Homo sapiens: one gene and its partners. The protein of the gene in region 3 purifies or fractionates together with the protein of the main gene of each other region. This does not show direct contact. Each region holds a gene or a part of one and is shown on either strand. Other genes may lie near its edges.

Evidence for each region.
Region 1: the proteins of KCNH4 (region 3) and ARFGEF1 purify together in Homo sapiens (affinity purification with mass spectrometry; one large-scale study listed by BioGRID and IntAct). This does not show direct contact.
Region 2: the proteins of KCNH4 (region 3) and ARFGEF2 purify together in Homo sapiens (affinity purification with mass spectrometry; one large-scale study listed by BioGRID and IntAct). This does not show direct contact.

The regions. Positions count from the first base shown.
Region 1 is NC_000008.11:67,267,282-67,270,933, reverse strand, and holds part of ARFGEF1 (brefeldin A-inhibited guanine nucleotide-exchange protein 1), read left to right. Parts: intron 1-3,491; coding exon 3,492-3,591; intron 3,592-3,652. UniProt on the Homo sapiens protein: Promotes guanine-nucleotide exchange on ARF1 and ARF3. Promotes the activation of ARF1/ARF3 through replacement of GDP with GTP. Involved in vesicular trafficking.
Region 2 is NC_000020.11:49,029,674-49,033,325, forward strand, and holds part of ARFGEF2 (brefeldin A-inhibited guanine nucleotide-exchange protein 2), read left to right. Parts: intron 1-2,375; coding exon 2,376-2,493; intron 2,494-3,349; coding exon 3,350-3,526; 3' UTR 3,527-3,652. UniProt on the Homo sapiens protein: Promotes guanine-nucleotide exchange on ARF1 and ARF3 and to a lower extent on ARF5 and ARF6. Promotes the activation of ARF1/ARF5/ARF6 through replacement of GDP with GTP. Involved in the regulation of Golgi vesicular transport.
Region 3 is NC_000017.11:42,167,619-42,171,270, reverse strand, and holds part of KCNH4 (voltage-gated delayed rectifier potassium channel KCNH4), read left to right. Parts: intron 1-969; coding exon 970-1,164; intron 1,165-1,594; coding exon 1,595-1,794; intron 1,795-3,652. UniProt on the Homo sapiens protein: Pore-forming (alpha) subunit of a voltage-gated delayed rectifier. Activates at more negative voltages, exhibits fast prepulse-independent activation kinetics and deactivates much more slowly, but shows no inactivation.

The DNA of each region.
Region 1 (3,652 bases), on a different chromosome or scaffold from region 3:
TCCTGCCTTAGCTTCCCGAGTAGCTGGGATTATAGGCATGTGCCACCACGCCTGGCTAATTTTGTATTTTTAGTAGAGACAGGGTTTCTCCATGTTGGTCAGGTTGGTCTCAAACTCCCGACCTCAGGTGATCTGTCCGCGTCCGCCTCCCAAAGTGCTGGGAGCATAGGTGTGAGCCACTGCGCCCAGCTTTATGTGGTTTTTTTTTTTTTTTTTTTTAAGGTGTACCAGTTTCTGATTTTTTGTTTTCATCTTCAAATAAAACTTAAAAATAGTACTTTATGTTTTACCAATTTAATGAATGCTTTTTTCAATTTGTTATTTGTTGAAATGTTGTTTTGGTTGTGATGTTGTATGGTTTTGAAATACTCATTTTTATGTTGTCAGTTTTTACCTTCATATTATGTTTGATATACAGGTTATATTTTAATTTTTGTTAATTTTATATTTAATCCTAACTCAAGACTCATAATTCACTAGCTTGTTAGAAAGGATAAATTATTTTTCCAGAATTTCGAAATGGCTAAAATAGTCATATTATCCTTTAATGTTAATGTTCTGTAATAGCTATCAAGATTGATTTAGAGCATTGTTATGAGAATGAAACAGAATTAGGCCTTGGTATTTTAAGTGAAAAGCTTTTTAATTTGGGCCATATTTTTGGACAGGAAACCATTTTTGGTGCCTATATGATGTATGATGTCAAGTTTTAAGAGTTTGCCATATGTCTGTTAAGATAATACAAGGCGTTTAACTAGGAAGAGTTGCCGTTTTTAGATAGTTTTTCCCCATTATCTGTAGGAACTATAAATAAAAGACAGTTAAAAAAACTTTTAGAACTTTTGCTTTTGTAAAAAACCAGAAGTCTTTCATCTGATGATGAGACATTTAAGTTGGCATTAGAAAATTTTGTAATACTTTATGTAACCAATTACAGATTTTTTTGGACACTGAGATTCTGCTTCTGTAGGTACTGTTTACCGACAGTAAAATATAAATTCTTAGATCTAGATATCAAAAATTATTTAAGTTGAGATTACTATTTTTGCACAGCAAATTCAACTTTGCAAAAATGAATTTGAAAGGAAAAACTTTAAGAAATTTCTTGTCAATTTGTAGATGTCAGATTCTCATTACAAAATTATTATAATATTCTAATTTTTAAAAATTAGGTTTATTTCACTCCTTATTGTCCCTCAGGGGGCGATAATGAGGGTAAAATGAGATAAATATAGATATACTTTCAAAAATGTTATACACACTCAAATTATAAATGAGTTGAGCACCGGGCACAGTGGCTCACACCTGTAATCCCAGCACTTTGGGAGGCCGAGGCGGGTGGATCACCTGAGGTCAGGAGTTCGAGACTAGCCTGACCAACATGGAGAAACCCCATCTCTACTAAAAATACAAAATTAGCCGGGTGTGGTGGTGCATGCCTGTAATCCCAGCTACTTGGGAGCAGAGGCAGGACAATCGCTTGAACCTGGGAGGCCGAGGTTGCAGTGAGCTAAGATCGCGCCATTGCACTCCAGCCTGGTCAACAAGAGCGAAACTCCATCTCAAAAAAAAAAAAAAAAAAAGCTGAACGTGGAGAAAGCCCAGCTATGAAAACCTAAATTTGCAAAACAAAATTAAGATTGTTTTTACATGAAGATTCATTTTATGAGAATATTCACTTCAGAGTTTCTGTGATGTGATTTTTTCATGGGTCTTAAATTATATATCTATTCCAGAAGATACAGTTTATGTACAACTTTTCAGGAGAACATATGTGAAGACAGCATACTTAAGATATAGCTGTTGTTCCACATACATACATTATAGGTCCTCGATAAATTATTAAAAGGTTGATTTTTTTAGAGCCCCTATTATGATAGGCATAATATCTTATATTACAGCAATAGACTTTTGCTTATTAGTGCAATTTGATAAACCATTGATAGTAGCTAAAATTTTTTCTTCCCTCTCTCTTCCAGTCTATATTATTTATTTTGTCAATCAGAGGATCCCAAAAGTTTTTGATTCACAAGTCTGACTTTTCATGAAAGTTGCACTTTGGCCAGAGGAATACCTCCAGTTCTATGTTCTATTTATTAAGCAGGCAGGGCCAAACAACTTAATGGATATTTGTCTTCACAGCCTACTATGTATTTCAAAGACAATAGTATGCATAAAGTAAAAGAAAAATAATGTTTTTATTTTATTCTTTACCGCAATTACTTACCACTGGGATGCGTGTGCCTATTAGAAACTGCACACAGCTTCTTAGATCTTGGAATTGAATACTGTCCCCCTCATTCCTGTACTTCATTGATTTTCATTCAGTACTTGGTTTTTTATCATAGCAACTACCAAAACCCAGCTTTGCGGAGATAATTATGTCATTGAAGGGAATGTAGTGTGATTTATTTGAAACCATGAGCAATCTTTTGAGGTATCCAACAGATGTATCTCCCTCTGAATTTTGCCTCAGAATTTTTTCAGGGCACCCTCATGAGTTTGCTACAGCATTCTGGGGTACTTTGATGCAGTTTTTGGGAATTGTGGCCATGTTGCCATAAGTATTTATTGAACACCTACTATGTGCCCTGCAATATGGACGTGATCTTTATCAAGAAAGACCTGGTCATTACTGTCTTCAAGCTTACAGTCTATAGGAGATACTGATATTAAACAAGTAAATAGAAATATGCTGAGTTTTGTGAAAGAAAATCACATTACAGGGGTACCTAATCCAGTTAGGGGGAGATACTATAAATGTGATTTTCTGGGTTCATAATGCATATGTTTCATAAATGTTAATATGTTGGTTGTTTCAGTCATTCCTTCTTAAAGTCACTTTTATAGAATACATTTAAATCTGAAAATTCTTATCTGTTAAATTGAAATTTATCTCATTAGGTTGATTAACTCACTGCTTGATTATTTGGTGTAAAGAGTAGTGAGAAATAGTTCATATGTAGTTTTCAAACAGTAGAGATTTTCACTTTTGTGAGTAATTAGAAAAATAAAACCGTATGAGACTTAGATTGTTTTTATTGTGTTGATTAGAGTATCAGTTACATTTAAATCTACGAACAGTTAGGCCTCTCAGTACTAGAACGTCTCTGAAAAATATAACTGATGAACAGAAGTATAAATTACGCTTTTGGAGGGGGATTAAAAAAGCGTAAGTTATATTCTGTAAAAATGTTAAAGAAATTATCACCTAGAGGAACTCTAAATCTTTGCATATTTCTTTTGTAGCAGCTGTGTTGAGAACAAAACACATCAATGTGAATTGCAGTACTGATAACTAGAAGGGCAAGTTTAAGTCACTTACCCAAGATATTTTAGTCCTGAGGATTCAGAGATGGAACTCAAAAGGAGTTGAACTCCATAAGAGCCTGGGTCCTAATACCTGCTCTATAGCTCTGGGATGTTTAAAAAGTGATCACACATATGAATTCTAAACAATATTTTAAACAGAAGTTTTCTCCTAATCACAGGTGTTCTTTAAAGAAATTTTCTTATACATTTTGGAAACTTCTACCAGCTCATTTGATCACAAATGGATGGTTATTCAGACACTGACGAGGATTTGTGCAGGTATTTTAAATTATCCTTTTTATTATCTCTTTCTTATTATTAGATATTTAAAAGGCCAAAT
Region 2 (3,652 bases), on a different chromosome or scaffold from region 3:
GTCCACTTCCTGGGTTCAACCAATTCTCCTGCCTCGGCCTCCTGAGTAGCCAGGATTACAGGCGCGTGCCACCATACCTGGCTGGTTTTTTGTATTTTTAGTGGAGATGGGGTTTCACCATGTTGGTCAGGCTAGTCTCAAACTCCTGACCTCAGGTGATCTGCCGACCTCCGCCTCCCAAAGTGCTGGGATTACAGGCATGAGCCACCGTGCCCAGCCTAAAAGTGAATTTTTTTTTTTTTTTTTTTTTTTGAGACAGAGTCTTGCTCTGTCACTCAGGCTGGAGTGCAGTGGCGTGATCTTGGCTCACTGCCACCTCTGCCTCCCGGGTTCAAGTGATTCTTCTGCATCAGCCTCCCGAGTAGCTGGGACTACAGGCGTGTGCCATCACACACCTGGCTAATTTTTGTGTTTTTAGTAGAGACAAAGTTTCACGATATTGGCCAGGATGGTCTTGAACTCCTGACCTCGTGATCCCCCCACCTCGGCCTCCCAAAGTGCAGGGATGGGCGTGAGCCACTGCGCCCGGCCTAAAAGTGAAATTTTTAAGAAATAATTTTACTTAATGTGGGAACTTTTTCATAATACAATAATTTTTACCCCAAAAAAAGCTGCAAAAGTGTTTTTACTTGGAATTTTCAGCAATTGGGGCATTTTATTTGTTTTTTTAGAGTCAGGGTCTTGCTATGTTGCCTAGGCTGGTCTCGAACTCCTGGGCTTACGAGCTCTTCCTGCCTCAGCCTCCTGAGTAGCTGGGACTACAGGCGAGCAATTTTTCTTTTGAAATCTTAGCAAAAAAAAAAAAAACTGGAAGGAAATATGCCAAAATATTGTCATGTATCCCTTAGAATGATGTAGCTATTTTTCTTTATAATTTTTTTCATAATTTTTTACATATATCAGTTACCTTACAATGAGAATAACAAGTCATAAAGTGAAAAAAGAATTAATTAATTAAAGGAGGCACCAATGGCTCATTTCAGCTTAAGCCCAAAAGACAAATACCTACAGTCTCATAAAGTTTCTCTAAAGGAGATATGTAGGGCCGGGCGCGGTGGGTCACATCTGTAATCCCAGCACTTTGGGAGGCCGAGCCAGGTGGATCACAAGGTCAGGAGTTTGAGACCAGCCTGGCCAACATGGCCCTGTCTCTACTAAAAATACAAAAATTAACCAGGCATGGTGGCAGGCGCCTGTAATCCCAGCTACTCGGGAGGCTGAGGCAGGAGAATCACTTGAACCCAGGAGGCAGAGGTTGCAGTGAGCCAAGATTGTGCTGTTGCACTCCAGCCTGGGCAACAAGAGCAAGACTCCGTCTCAAAATAAAAAAAAGAGATATGTAAATGTCAAGTTTTTGGCATGTTTTTTAAAAAAGCAATTAAATGTGATTGTGAGGAGAGAAAGGCAGTTATATAATTATGAGTAATAAGCTCTTGTGCTACAGACATTGATTGAGTTCAGCCCTAGCCATGTGCCAGGACTGAGCCAAGTTATGACTTAACATATTTACTTCATTTAATCCTCACAACAACCCCTTGAGTTTGGACTTTTTTTTTTTTTTTTTTTTTTTTTTTTTGAGATAGTCTCACTCTATCGCCCAGGCTGGAGTGCAGTGGTGCAATCTCAGTTTACTGCAACCTCCACCTCCTGAGTTCAAGTGATTCTTGTGCCTCAGCCACCTGAGTAGCTGGAATTACAGATACGCACCACCACACCCAGCTAATTTTTCTATTTTTAGTAGAAATGGGGGTTTGCTACATTGGCCGGGCTGTCTCGAACTCCTGGCTTCAAGTGATCTGCTTGCGTTGGCCTCCCAGAGTGCTGGGATTATAGGCATGAGTCACTGCACCTGGCCAGGCAATTTTTTATCTCCATTTTATAGCTGAAGAAACTAAGGCTCAGTGATTTGCCCAAGATAGCACAGCCAGAGTGGGTGCTCAATAGTTATTGCAGTGGCTGGGCTCAGAGGCTCAGGCTCACATCTATAATCCCAGCACTTTGGGAAGCCAAGGCAGACAGATTGCTGAGCCCAGGAGTTCAAGACCAGCCTGGGCAACGTGGTGAAACCCCATCTCTACTAAAAATCAAAAAAATTAGCCAGGCATGGTGGCGCAAGCATGTAGTGTTAGCTGCTTCAGAGGCAGAGGTGGGAGGATCAGCTTGAGCCCGAGGAGGTCAAGGCTACAGTGAACCTTGATCACACCACTGCACTCCAGCCTGGGCCGCAGAGCAAGACCCTGTCTCAAAAAAAAAAAAGTAATTAAAAAAAACATGTTAAAATAATTTTAAAAATAGCACAAGAATGAATAGTTCTCCCCTGAATGTGAGATGTTAATCAATTGTTTGATATGCCTCCCCCTCTCTAATTCTTCTAGTGTTTGCAGTGAAGCTCTTGCCTATTTCATCACTGTGAATTCTGAGAGCCATCGGGAGGCCTGGACAAGTCTCTTGTTGTTACTTCTAACTAAAACCCTCAAAATAAATGATGAAAAGGTATGAACAAGTAAACTCTGACCAATTTTCACTAGGACATAAAGTTTGGGTTGGCTTTTTACTCAAGAGTTTGCAGTAACTATTTTCTCAGTTCTCCCAAGGATGGTTACGTGACTAGCACCATTCTAGATGCATTGGAGAGAAGTTAATCCGTTATGGACAATGGGTGCCACAGGATATTAGGGCTTTTTGCCTGGAAGAACAGTAGTTGAGAACGGCTGAAGTGTAGACCTCATGTGTTGCTGTTAGGAATGGTATGGTGAGTTTCAGTGCAGGAAGAGAGGGTTAAGATTGTGAAGCACCAGTTTTGACCTAGGAACCTGCTTTACAAAATAAAAGAGCTGTTGACTTTTGGCAGCAAGACTATCCAAATTTAATTAAAGTTAAATATAACTGAAAGAAGCTTTAATTTGCAAGGTTTCTTCAACTTCTTTTTTTTTTTTTGAGACAGAGTCTTGGTCTGTCACACAGGCTGGAATGCAGTGACGTAATCTAGCTCACTGCAATTTCTGCCTCCCAGGCTCAAGCGATCCTCCCACCTCAGCCTCCTGAGTAGCTGGGACCACAGACACGCGCCACTATGCCCAGCTAAGTTTTTGTATTTTTGGTAGAGACAGGGTTTCACCGTGTTGCCTAGGCTGGTCTCGATCTCCTGAGCTCAAGCGATCCACCTGCCTCGGCCTCCCCAAGTGCTGGGATTATAGGCGTGAATCACTGCGCTCGGCCCCAACTTTCTAATAGCAAGAAAAGCACCAATATTGTAATAAGTTCCAGGGTGAGATTAACACTTCTGAAAAACTGGTGCCCAAAAAAAAAAAAAATTGTCTAATTTTATCTGTTTCTCTCCCACCTCAAGTTCAAAGCACATGCTTCAATGTACTACCCCTACTTGTGTGAAATTATGCAGTTTGACCTGATCCCTGAGCTCCGAGCAGTTCTGCGGAAGTTCTTCCTACGGATAGGTGTTGTGTATAAGATATGGATACCAGAAGAGCCATCACAGGTACCAGCAGCACTGTCACCAGTGTGGTAGCCCTGGCTGCCCAGGCCAGTGCTGCAGCTCTGCAGAATGTTCAGCATGCCATTTCTGACTGGCACATCTCGTGAAGTTTCATAGAAACAAGGAGTTGGCATCTTGGATCTCAGAATGGCCTGGAAA
Region 3 (3,652 bases):
CTTTTCTCTCCATCCTCTCTGCCCCTTCCCAGTCCACTCCACCTCCCTTTCTCACCCAGGCCTGTGCAATAGCCTCCCTACTGATTTCCCAATCCCCTTCTCATCCCCCCCACAACCACCATCCTCACCACAGCCAAATGGGTGTTCCAGGATTCAACGTTGACCCACTACACTCCTTCTGGGATTCCTTCAGTGGCTTCCCACTGCCCTCCAAATGAAGTCCACACTCACTGCACACCCTGGGCGGCCCTGTGCCCCTTCTCTCCCCACCTGCCTTCCCGTTCTCCCGTGCTCCCTGCGCTGCAGCCACACCAGCCTCTCCCCTGGACCCAGGACATACTGCTTTCTCATGCTGGGCCTGGAACATGTTCTTTTCCTCTCTGGAATCCTCCTCTTTTGTCTTCCCTCTCCACCTAGATGGATTTTCCGTTCCCTGCCTCACTTGGAACAATGTTCCTTCGGTTCCATGTGTCTCAACCAAAATGTCCTGTCCTAAGGAGCATGCCTTCCAGGCACCATGTCCAGAACCCCCAACTGCCAATGGGTTGGCTTTCCCTAACCTGTTAGGATTCCTAACACACCCTATACAATACTTTCCTTCCAGGAGCTCACCTCCCACCTGTAATGATTTATGTCATGTCTCTTTCCCCTCCAGGCTATAGGTTCCACCAGGGCAGGGAGAGTGTTTGGCTGGGTCAATTCCCCAACACTTTGTATACAGCAGGTGCACAATAAACTATTAGAAAGTTTCAGGAGCCTTTGAACACTCAGCAATGTAGTTAGTTGGCGGCCTTGGAATGCAACTGTAACCAATGCACCATGGGGAGACACAGGCCCAGGCCACTCCCCACATTTCCTGTGCCAACCTGTGTATAAATACTTGCCGAAGGTCAAGCGTAGGTGGCTCAGGGAACCCTGGTTCTCCACCGCTGGCACAGCCAGGGCTCCCTGCATCCGTCCACCCTGCAGGCTGGTTGCATGAGTTGGGCAAGCGTCTGGAGGTGCCCTATGTCAATGGCTCGGTGGGCGGCCCATCACGGCGCAGCGCCTACATCGCGGCACTGTACTTCACTCTAAGCAGCCTCACCAGTGTGGGCTTTGGCAACGTGTGTGCCAACACCGACGCGGAGAAGATCTTCTCCATCTGCACGATGCTCATAGGCGGTGAGGCCAGACCTGCCACGCCTCAGTGGGGCCCTGCGAAGCCCAGCATGCACGGGGAAACTGAGGCCCAGAGAGGGCAAGACATCTGCCCGAGGTGTCTACCCAAGTCCAGACAGTCACGCATTCATTCACGGACGTTTCCTGAGTGCCCACTATGTGCTGGCCCTGGGGATGCCACAAACAGGCGTGGACTTTTGCAAAGGGGATGGGAAACCCAGGTTCATGACCTAATGGTGGGGAGGCCTGAGAGGAGCATGGGGTGTTACCCATCTCTGGACCACTCCCTATTCCCCACCCTTAGTCTAGTGCCTGGCACCTGGTAGGCACACAGGAGCCCGCTGGCTCTTGGTCCAGGACAGGGTGGGTTTGGGAGCTGGGGAGGTGGCCAGAGGGGTGGCCGCCCCTGACAGGCCCGCTGCTGCTGCTGCAGCCCTGATGCACGCTGTGGTGTTCGGGAACGTGACAGCCATCATCCAGCGCATGTACTCGCGCCGCTCGCTCTACCACAGCCGCATGAAGGACCTCAAGGACTTCATCCGTGTGCACCGCCTGCCGCGGCCGCTCAAGCAGCGCATGCTCGAATACTTCCAGACCACGTGGGCCGTCAACAGCGGCATCGACGCCAACGAGGTAGCCTGCAGGGTCTCCAATCTTGCCCTTGCCCTCCGCGTGGCCCTGCAGTGGGGTGGGGAAGGAGTCGCTGCCCCTGTAGCTTAAAATGGAGGCAGGCCGAACTCGGCTGCTCACACCTGTAATCCCAGCACTTTGGGAGGCTGAGGCGGGCAGGTCACTTGAGGTCAGGAGTTGAAGACCAGCCTGGGCGACATGGTGAAACCCTGTCTCTGCTAAAAATATGAAAATTAGCCAGCTGTGGTGGTGCACGCCTGTAATCCCAGCTACTAGGGAGACTGAGGCACGAGAATCACTTGAACCAGGGAGGCAGAGGCTGCAGTGAGCCAAGATCATGCCACTGCACTCCAGCCTGGGTGACAGAGCTAGACTCTGTCTCAAAAAAAATAAATAAATAAAATGGAGGCGCTGAGCGCAGTGGCTCACACCTGTAATCCCAGCACTTTGGGAGGCCGAGGTGGGCGGATCACAAGGTCAGGAGATCGAGACCATCCTGGCTAACACGGTGAAACCCCATCTCTACTAAAAATACAAAAAATTAGCCGGGCATGGCAGCGTGCACCTATAGTCCCAGCTACTCAGGAGGCTGATGCAGGAGAATGGCATGAACCCGGGAGGCGGAGCTTGCAGTGAGCCGAAATTGTGCCACTGCACTCCAGCCTGGGCGGCAGAGCGAGACTCTGTCTCAAAAATAAAAATAAAAATAAAAATAAAAAAATAAATAAATAAAATAAAAGGGAGGCAAACAGGGCCCGGGGGGTGAGGTATTGTTCACAAGGGCACACATTTGCCCAAAATACAAATTCTTGCTTCTTTTCTTTTTTTCTTTTTTCAAGAAGGAGTCTTGCTCTGTCGCCCACGCTGGAGTGCAGTGGTGTGCTCTCAGCTCACTGCAACCTCTGCCTCCCAGGTTCAAGGAATTCTTCTGCCTCAGCTTCCTGAGTATCTGGGATCACAGGCACCTGCCACCATGCTCGGCTGATTTTTGTATTCTTAGTAGAGACGGGGTTTCACCATGTTGGTCAGGCTTGTCTCGAACTCTTGACATCGTAATACACCTGCTTCAGCCTCCCAATTTGCTGGGATTACAGGCGTGCACCACCACAGCCGGCCAAATTCTTGTTTCTTTGCACTTGAATAAGGGAATGAAAGAGCTCAGGGCCCAGCTGATGCGACTCTCCCTTCTGCCAACATTTCCTGAGTGCCTGCTTTGGGCCAGCCTTGGTGCTGGGCACAGAGAGCTTAGAGATGATGACACTTAGCCCTGGCCCTCAGGGAGACCCAGAGTATTGAGGGAGGCAGAAAGATGAACAGAGAGTGCCGCGCTGAATGGGGCTGTAAAGGAGGGATGTCGGTGCCTTCAGGTCCTCATTGTGCCTGGGTGGGGAGGAGTCAAGGAAGGTGGCAATGCCAGGTAGAAATGGCCTTAGGGACACAGGCCAGAAGTGATGGCACAAAAGAGCAGAGTGAGCGCTTTAGGGAACTGAAAGCGGCTCAATAAGCCCGCAGGAATGGGCATGTGAGTGCTGCGGAGGGAGAAGGCAGGGCAGGAAGGCACGACATGGGCTGGGAGGCAGCAGGCCCAGCTCAGGGATGGCCTAGAATTTAGATTTTATCCTGCTTAATGTTTAGACTGGGGAGTGGTGTGGGGATCTTGGAGGGAATGGGTTGGTGAGGTATCTCTGAGGATGGGATCTGTGGGACGTGGTAATCTCCTGCTGGTTGCAAGAGAGGAGCTCAGAGTGACTCCCAGTTTTCTGGCTTAGGCCAAGGGTGGGGATGGAGGCATAACAGGGGGAAGATGGGCTTTGGGATGAAGGTGAGAGTCCCGGGTCAGACCAAGAGGAGGGTATAGTGC